Homo sapiens: one gene and its partner. The protein of the gene in region 2 interacts with the protein of the main gene of each other region in a pairwise test. Each region holds a gene or a part of one and is shown on either strand. Other genes may lie near its edges.

Region 1 (3,827 bases), on a different chromosome or scaffold from region 2:
GCACACCACCGTTTCTGCCATTCAAATCCCAGAAAGCTGTGATCTGCAATAAAGAGGGGAAAATGTAAGGCCATTTCCTTACTGTAAAAGAAAAAGTTAATTAATATGATTTCTAAGATTCCTCTGAGCTCTAACATTGTGTGACTAATTTGTATCTTCTTTTCCAAGAGACAAAAAACCAAACAACAACAAACCAACACAGCTAAAGGGAATAAAGTAAAGTAGCTATGGGGCTGCCATACTTATGGGATCAACAGCATGGCTAACAAAGTTTTCTGACAGGGACAGTCAAAAAGGTATCTGACTATACAGTCTTGAGATAATTGATCCATCTGGGTCTCATTTTCTCATCTGTTATAAAAAGAAGGGGAGGAGCTAACCTAGATTATTTCTGTTATCTCTTTCAGTTTTAAAATTCAGCTAAGAAAGCTAAGAAAAGCAAAATGAAATATAAATAGAAAGGCCTAAAGGGACTACAAGAGAGATAAGCAGAATGGTAATGAAAAGACTGTCTGCTTTTCATTTCTCATATTATAAAACCACCTCCATATTTCATTTCCATTAAATATTGGTGTTGAAAGAGTGAGACCATATGGTCAACTCCCAATTATCATAGCCAATGGAGAGGAACACTGAAATGAATAATAGACAATGGCAGACAAAACTCCAGGCTTGATCTGAACCATGGTGCATGCCAGTTTGGGCATAGGAGAACCTGCTGCTCAGCCCATTGAGATACTGGTGAGAAATCCCACCTTTGAGAATACAGTCATGGCCTGCAGCTTTCCTTTGAGAGGCAGGAAACAGCTCCTGAATCATTTACAAATAACCAAGGTTGACAACTAAAAACCTAACCTAATGTTTTCTTATTAAAAATTATTTAAAGCTAAGAGCTATATTTTGTGGTTTGGATAATGTCATCCAGATTTTCTTACAATCTTTAAACTCTTTAATCACCTAAAACGAATACTGCCTCCACATGTATACTACAAACATGTTCTATCTAAGGATGAAATTATTTTTACATTTTTCATTAGAACCTTCAGTTTACCTTTTCTGCGTTTTTCAAGGTAGCCAGCCTTTAGAACAAAAGGAAGGTCTTGTGCTGCAATTGGAGGAAACTGGGCTCCTATGAGAAGTTGGGGAGAGAAAAAAAAAAGCAGTGGGTAATCCATTTCAGAATAAACAAGTGCCAGATCTCATTAGATTCAGTGTGCTTTTAATTACTGAAATTGTTTAAATCTAAGTCTATTAGCTTTGTTTCAGATCCATTCCCTAGATTAATCCCCTCTATTCCTCCTAAAAGTCTCAAAAGTAAAAAAAAAAAAAAAAAAAAAAAAGTTCTGTACTCCTATATGTTATTATAGCCTCCCAAAATACAGGACTGAGAAACTATTATAAATAAATGCAATAAATCCCTGAAAGAGAGGTTAAGAATTTCAAATAAATCATAGCTTCGTTATATTTATATTGAATTAACTCTTTAAAAATTTCAATACATATTGACTCTTTCCTGCATAATCCCTATTCCTACCAAGTAAAACATAAAATGCTTTTCCGAATCAAATGCTGAAACTTGTTTCTCTGAGCCCACAGCAAATATTCTCTGTGTTTGTATTCAGAGAAATGTTATGGACATTCCACTGAGTGAGTATGCTTTAGGTTTTTATAGGGCATTTAAGAGTCTAAAACTAGACAGATCTGATAAAACTATTATAAACAAATACTGGATCCCTAAAAAAAGTTTTTAAATCAAGCAAAAGTTAAGTTGATTAGAAATTGTATATTCACGGTCATGGATTATAGGTTACTCAATTTTACAAGTGTTCAATATTTTTATAAACTTCATTAGAAATATAATAGTTATCTGCCGGGCGCAGTGGCTCACGCTTGTAATCCCAGCACTTTTGGAGGCCGAGGCGGGTGGATCACTTGAGGACAGGAGTTCGAGACCAGCCTGGCCAACACAGTGAAACCTGGTCTCTACTAAAACTACAAAAGAAATTAGCCAGGCATGGTGGCGGGTGCCTGTAATCCCAGCTACTTGGGAGCTGACGCAGGAGAATCACTCGAACCCAGGAGGCAGAGGTTGCAGTGAGCCAAGATCACGCCATTGCAATCCAGCCTGGGAAAAAAAAGAGAAAAAAACGAAAACAGAAAAGAAAAGAAATATAATAGTTATCCTCAGCATTTTACTAGAACTCTAGCAAGTGAAAACAACCAATCAAAAGAAAGTTTGTATGGAATACATCCAGTGGAAATAGTTTCAGTACAACTTAGGATAGAAAATGTGTTTGAGTACAAACATGTAATTAGAATGAATAAGATCTAGTATTTGATAGCACAACAGAGTGACTATAGTCAACAATAATTTATTGTACATTTAAAAATAACTAAGTGGCCGGGTGCAATGGCTCATGCCTACAATCCCAGCACTTTGGGAGGCTAAGGAAGGAGGGTCGCTTGAGCCCAGGAGTTTGACACCAGCTTGGGTAACACAGTGAGACCCCCATCTCTACGAAAAATTTAAAAATAACTGGGTGTAGTGGTATACGCGCCTGCAGTCCCAGCCAGTGGAGGAGGAGGGTAGAGGTGGGGGGAAGGGGGTCTGAGGTGGGAGGATCCCCCAAGAGGTCAAGGCTGCAGTGAGCCATGATTGTGCCACTGCGCTCCAGCCTGGGTAATAGAGTGAGACCCTGTCTCTAAATAAATAAATAAATAAATAAATAAATAAATAAATAAATTAATAAAATGAAATAACTAAACAAATATAATTGGATTCTTTGTAACAGAGAAAGAATAAATGGTTGAGGTGATGGATACCTCATTTATCCTGATGTGATTATCATGCATTGTATGCCTGTATCAAAACATACAATATGCCCATAAATTTGCCTATTGTGTACCCACAAAAATTAAAAATTAAAAAAAAGAATGGGTTTGATAGGAAGTTTATTATTTACAAACTCATCACCTAATTTTACCAGTTTTTTTTTTTAATACCATGGGGATCACAGTAGTGATAAAGTCATGGATATTTTTTCTTAAGAAATAAAGCTTAAAATTAGAGCACTAATTTCAGCTCCTTGGTGGATCAACTTCACCCAGTAAACACCACACAGTATCATTAAAACATATTTAAAATAGAGCCCTGATTTTGAAATGTATATGAAATTTTAGGGAAAGTCAGTGTACATATTTTAATAGCTGTTCAATAAATGTATCCAGTTTTTTTCAAAATAAACTTGGTACATATAAAGGTATAAATTATTTATTATAGGATTTTGTACATAAAACAAAAATTACAAACAGAAATCTTATCTCTGTAAACAAGTCCTGGTGAACCACTAATCTAAAGTGGATAATTGTGGAATGATCTGGTCTCATTAAGGGGTAGTCCCACAACCCTCTCACTTCCATTGGGCATAATAAATGCTCTTTACATAAGGAATGGATGCTCACAAAATCTTAAGAAAAGTTAAATTATTCTGAAAAGAAATGGGTACCTTTAGCATAGCTTTCAACTCTAAAATGTTACTGGTCAAAAAGGAGACAGAGAGAGATGGGAAGAAGGGAGAGGGGAGAGGAAGTGGGGGAAAAGGAAAAGGAGAAGGGAAATTAGAATTTACTAGCGTTCAATATACACATAGCCTGAGTCTTTTGCTTTAAGAAAAGTGTTGACTAAATTTCCACCTGATACATCACAATAAAATTTGATGTCATAAGCAATACTTGTTCTGAATTCTAAATTCATGTTTCTAATATAAAATCTTTGATTTCTTCCCTGGGGAGTGGGGGAGTACATTTTTTTTAACTGAAATTTCATT
Region 2 (3,827 bases):
GTGGCTATTGGTGCCTGCTCTGCCCATGGGCTTGGCAAGCCGAAAGTGCTAGAGAATTATCACATCCCCAGGAGTAGTTTTCAACAAAAGACAGGAGCGAGAACAGGGTGGACAAATACCCCGGTTCCCTCACCTCTCAAGCCTGTTCTACCCTGGCTCCCAGAGCTCCTCAGTGGGATTGAGCTCCAGGTGCCCGCAGTGGTAACTGGGCTTAGAAGACACCTTTAATGACTACCTCCTGTTCCCTGCCTCACTTCCTTACTCCCCTAGGAGGGTCTCTGGAATCAGCTCTCAAACTATTTGCATTTGAAACCTTGCCTAGGGTCTGCTTCTGGAGAAACTCAAACTAAGACATATACGCCATGATGGACTAGTGTGTGTATGTGTGTGTGTGTGTGTGTGTGTGTGTGTGTGTGTTTTGACATAAAAGGAATTGTGCTGCAGGAATCATGAGTAGTATCCTCCTCAGTTCTCCCCCTTTTTTTTTTTTTTGACAGAGTCTTGCTGTTGTCAGCCCAGGCTGGAGTGCAGTGGCAAGACCTTGGCTCACTGCAACCGTGCCTCCCGGGTTCCAGCAATTCTCCTGCCTCGGCTTCCCAAGTAGCTGAAATTACAGGCGCCCGCCACCACGCCCGGCTAATTTTTGCATTTTTAGTAGAGACGGGGTTTCACCATGTTGGCCAGGCTGGTCTTGAACTCCTGACCTCAGGTGATCCACCTGCTTTGTCCTCCCAAAGTGCTGGGATTACAGGTGTGAGCCACCGTGCCCAGCCTCAGTTCCATTTTTTTTTTGGATTTGGGAACTGAGGCTCAGAAAGGGAAGAGATTTGCCTAGTGCATCACAACCTGTCTTTGGCAGAGCTGGCACTCAGACTCGGGGTCGTCTACTGTACTGTACCCACTGTTCTTCATTTCTATGGTAGAGATGAGGCTGGGATTCCTGTTCTCTTGGCTGCACTTACATCTCCTGGGCCAAAGGATTTCAGGGTGATGCCTGGAACTCAGGGAGGTGACTCGAAGGGAGAGTCAGGAGCGCACGTCCTAGCGCAGTGCCATCCAGAGGATGCAGCATGTGGGACCACAGCCGGGGCCAAGACCAGGGCACATTTACACTTAAGCACAGGCTGCTTCTGCATCATTACCCACGCCTCTGAAAGTACCTTCAAACTCCCAGTCCTGTGGGGGAGGAAACTGGAGAAATGGGGTGGGGACCAACATGTGGTTGGTGCATGTGGTGGGGTTTGTTTAGAAAGGCAGAAGTGATTGCTTGATGACTTGTGGTATAAAAAAAGAAAAATAAACAACAACAAAAAGATGTAAGAAAGAAAGAGGCTGAGAGAGATTGTGCTACTAACTTGCTGTGTGACTTTGGGAAAGTCAATTACCCTCTCTAGGCTTCACATTCCTTTTCTTTTCTTTTTATGAGACAGGGTCTTGCTCTGTCACCCAGGCTGGAGTACAGTGGTGCAGTCTCAGATCACTGCAACCTTCACCTTCTGTGCTCAGACGATCCTCCCACCTCAGCCTCCTGAGTAGCTGGTACTACAGCCATGTGCCACCACACCCAGCTAATTTTTGTACTTTTTGTAGAGACAGGGTTTTGCCATGTTACCCAGGCTGGTCTCGAACTCCTGAGCTCAGATGATCTGCCTGTCTCGGCCTCCCAAAGTGCTGGGATTACAGGGTGAGCCACCGCACCCAGCCCTTCATGTTCCTTTTCTATAAAAAAGGAAGCCTTGTCATGACCCGAAGGGTGGGGTTTGAAAACTCAAATGACTATAGGGATGTGGAGGGTTCTGCGGATGAGGAAAGTGGGCCTGGCAAGGGCTGTGCAAGCTGGACAGCCCAGGTGTAGCCCCCAGGGCAGCCCCCAGCTCCACTGAGGTTGTCTGAAGAGCACTGGAGTCGTGGGTTCTAGTCTCAGGGCTGCTAACTCTTCTAATGTTTTAGGAGACAGAAATCCAGATTATGTGAGCTCTCCTGAGTTTAAATGTTAGCAACTAATTAAAAATAATCGCTGCGGGTGGAGGGGTGTTCGGGGAGGGCAGCTGAAATATCTCAGGCAAGGGAGGGAGGAGGTTGTCCAACATTCATTGCGTTTGTCCCATCAGTGTTTTTTTGAGGCCCTACTATGTGCCAGGTGCCAGGTGTTAGAAGATACAGTGGTTTATAGGACAAACATGTTTGTGCTCTTGTAGAATTTACTTTCTAGAAGAGTTTAAAGTCCAAGCCCTGGCTAGTCCTTAGAATGTAGACAACTTTCTCCTTACTTTCTGAGGTAAGAGCCCTCAGAGGGCAGCCTGGTTTGAATGAGATTAAGATTCGTGCTTTCTGTACCCATTAGAATGGTAATAATAATACTAATAAAATATAAACATAGTAGGCATTGGCAAGGATGTGAAGCCAATTGAAACCCTTGTATATTACGGTGGGAATGTAAAATGGTGGAAAACAGCATAGCAGTTCCTCAAAAAGTTAAAGATAGAACTACTGTTTTTTTTTTTTCTGAGAAGGAGTCTCGCTCTGTCGCCCAGGCTAGAGTGCAGTGGCTCGATCTCGGCTCACTGCAAGCTCCGCCTCCCGGGTTCATGCCATTCTCCTGCCTCAGCCTCCCGAGTAGCTGGGACTACAGGCGCCCACCACAATGCCCGGCTAATTTTTTTGTATTTTTTTAGTAGAGACGAGGTTTCACCGTGTTAACCGGGATGATCTCCATCTCCTGACCTCGTGATCCGCCCGCCTCAGCCTCCCAGAGTGCTGGGATTACAGGCGTGAGCCACCGCACCCGGCCACAGAGATAGAACTTTTATATGACCCAGTAACTCTACTTCAGGTATATACCCAAAGGAATTGAAAACAGGTGCTCAAACAAATACATGTATGCACATGCATGCTCATAGCAGTATTATTTTCAATGGTCAAAATGTGGAAACAACCTGAATTTCCATCTGTGGATAAATGGGTAAATAAACTGTGGAATATCCATACAATGGAATATTATTTGGCCACAAAGGGAATAAAGTACTAATAGTTGCCACCATGTGGATGAACCTTGGAAAACATTATGTTAAGTGGAAGAAGCTAGACACAGAAAGTCACATAGTATGCTTCTATTTATGTTAAATATCCTGAATAAATTAGTCCGTAGAGGCAAAAAGCAGATTGGTGGTTGCCAGGGGCCGGGGGAATGGGGGGTAATTGCTTAATGGGTACAAAGTTTCCTTTTTCAGGGGTGATGGAAATGTTTAGGAGCTACTGACAGGTAGTGTTTGTACAACATTGTGAATATACCAAATACCACTGAATTGTTCGCTTTAAAAATCATATAGTTAATTTTATAAAGTTATGTGAATTTCACCTCGATTAAAATATTTCTAAAAATTTTGAACTATATAAAAGATTGCTCTGCTAGAAAGGTTAAGCAAATTATAATACAGGCAAACAGTGGAATATTATGCAGCCACTAAAAATTTAAGAACATTTTAATGACCTGGAAAATGCTACAATGTAATACTAAGCAAATAAATAGGATAAAAATAATCTATGTGTAGCATTATACTAATTATGTTAATTTAAAAGTGCATAGAAAAGACTACATAAAGATACATGAAAATATTGGTTATTGTTCCCTCAAAAGGTTCATGCTTCCATTTTCTTGAACACTTATTAAGTGCCAGGCATAGTGAGTAAGGCAAGTGAAGTGCCTTACAGCAGAGAACATGAGGCCTGAAAGAAAGGCCATTGATCCAGAGACGGCTGGGAGATCAGCAGAGCAACATTCTTCTCTCTTCTCTGCCCCAGAGTCCCTGGTGACCCTTCTGGGCTAC

What was found.
Region 1: the proteins of HCK (region 2) and SKAP2 interact in a protein complementation assay, tested with the Homo sapiens proteins (one study listed by BioGRID).

What each region holds. Positions count from the first base shown.
Region 1 is NC_000007.14:26,738,836-26,742,662, forward strand, and holds part of SKAP2 (src kinase-associated phosphoprotein 2), read right to left. Parts: intron 3,537-3,827; exon of another isoform or gene 3,507-3,536; intron 1,130-3,506; coding exon 1,052-1,129; intron 44-1,051; coding exon 1-43. UniProt on the Homo sapiens protein: May be involved in B-cell and macrophage adhesion processes. In B-cells, may act by coupling the B-cell receptor (BCR) to integrin activation. May play a role in src signaling pathway.
Region 2 is NC_000020.11:32,055,196-32,059,022, reverse strand, and holds part of HCK (tyrosine-protein kinase HCK), read right to left. Parts: intron 1-3,827. UniProt on the Homo sapiens protein: Non-receptor tyrosine-protein kinase found in hematopoietic cells that transmits signals from cell surface receptors and plays an important role in the regulation of innate immune responses, including neutrophil, monocyte, macrophage and mast cell functions, phagocytosis, cell survival and proliferation, cell adhesion and migration.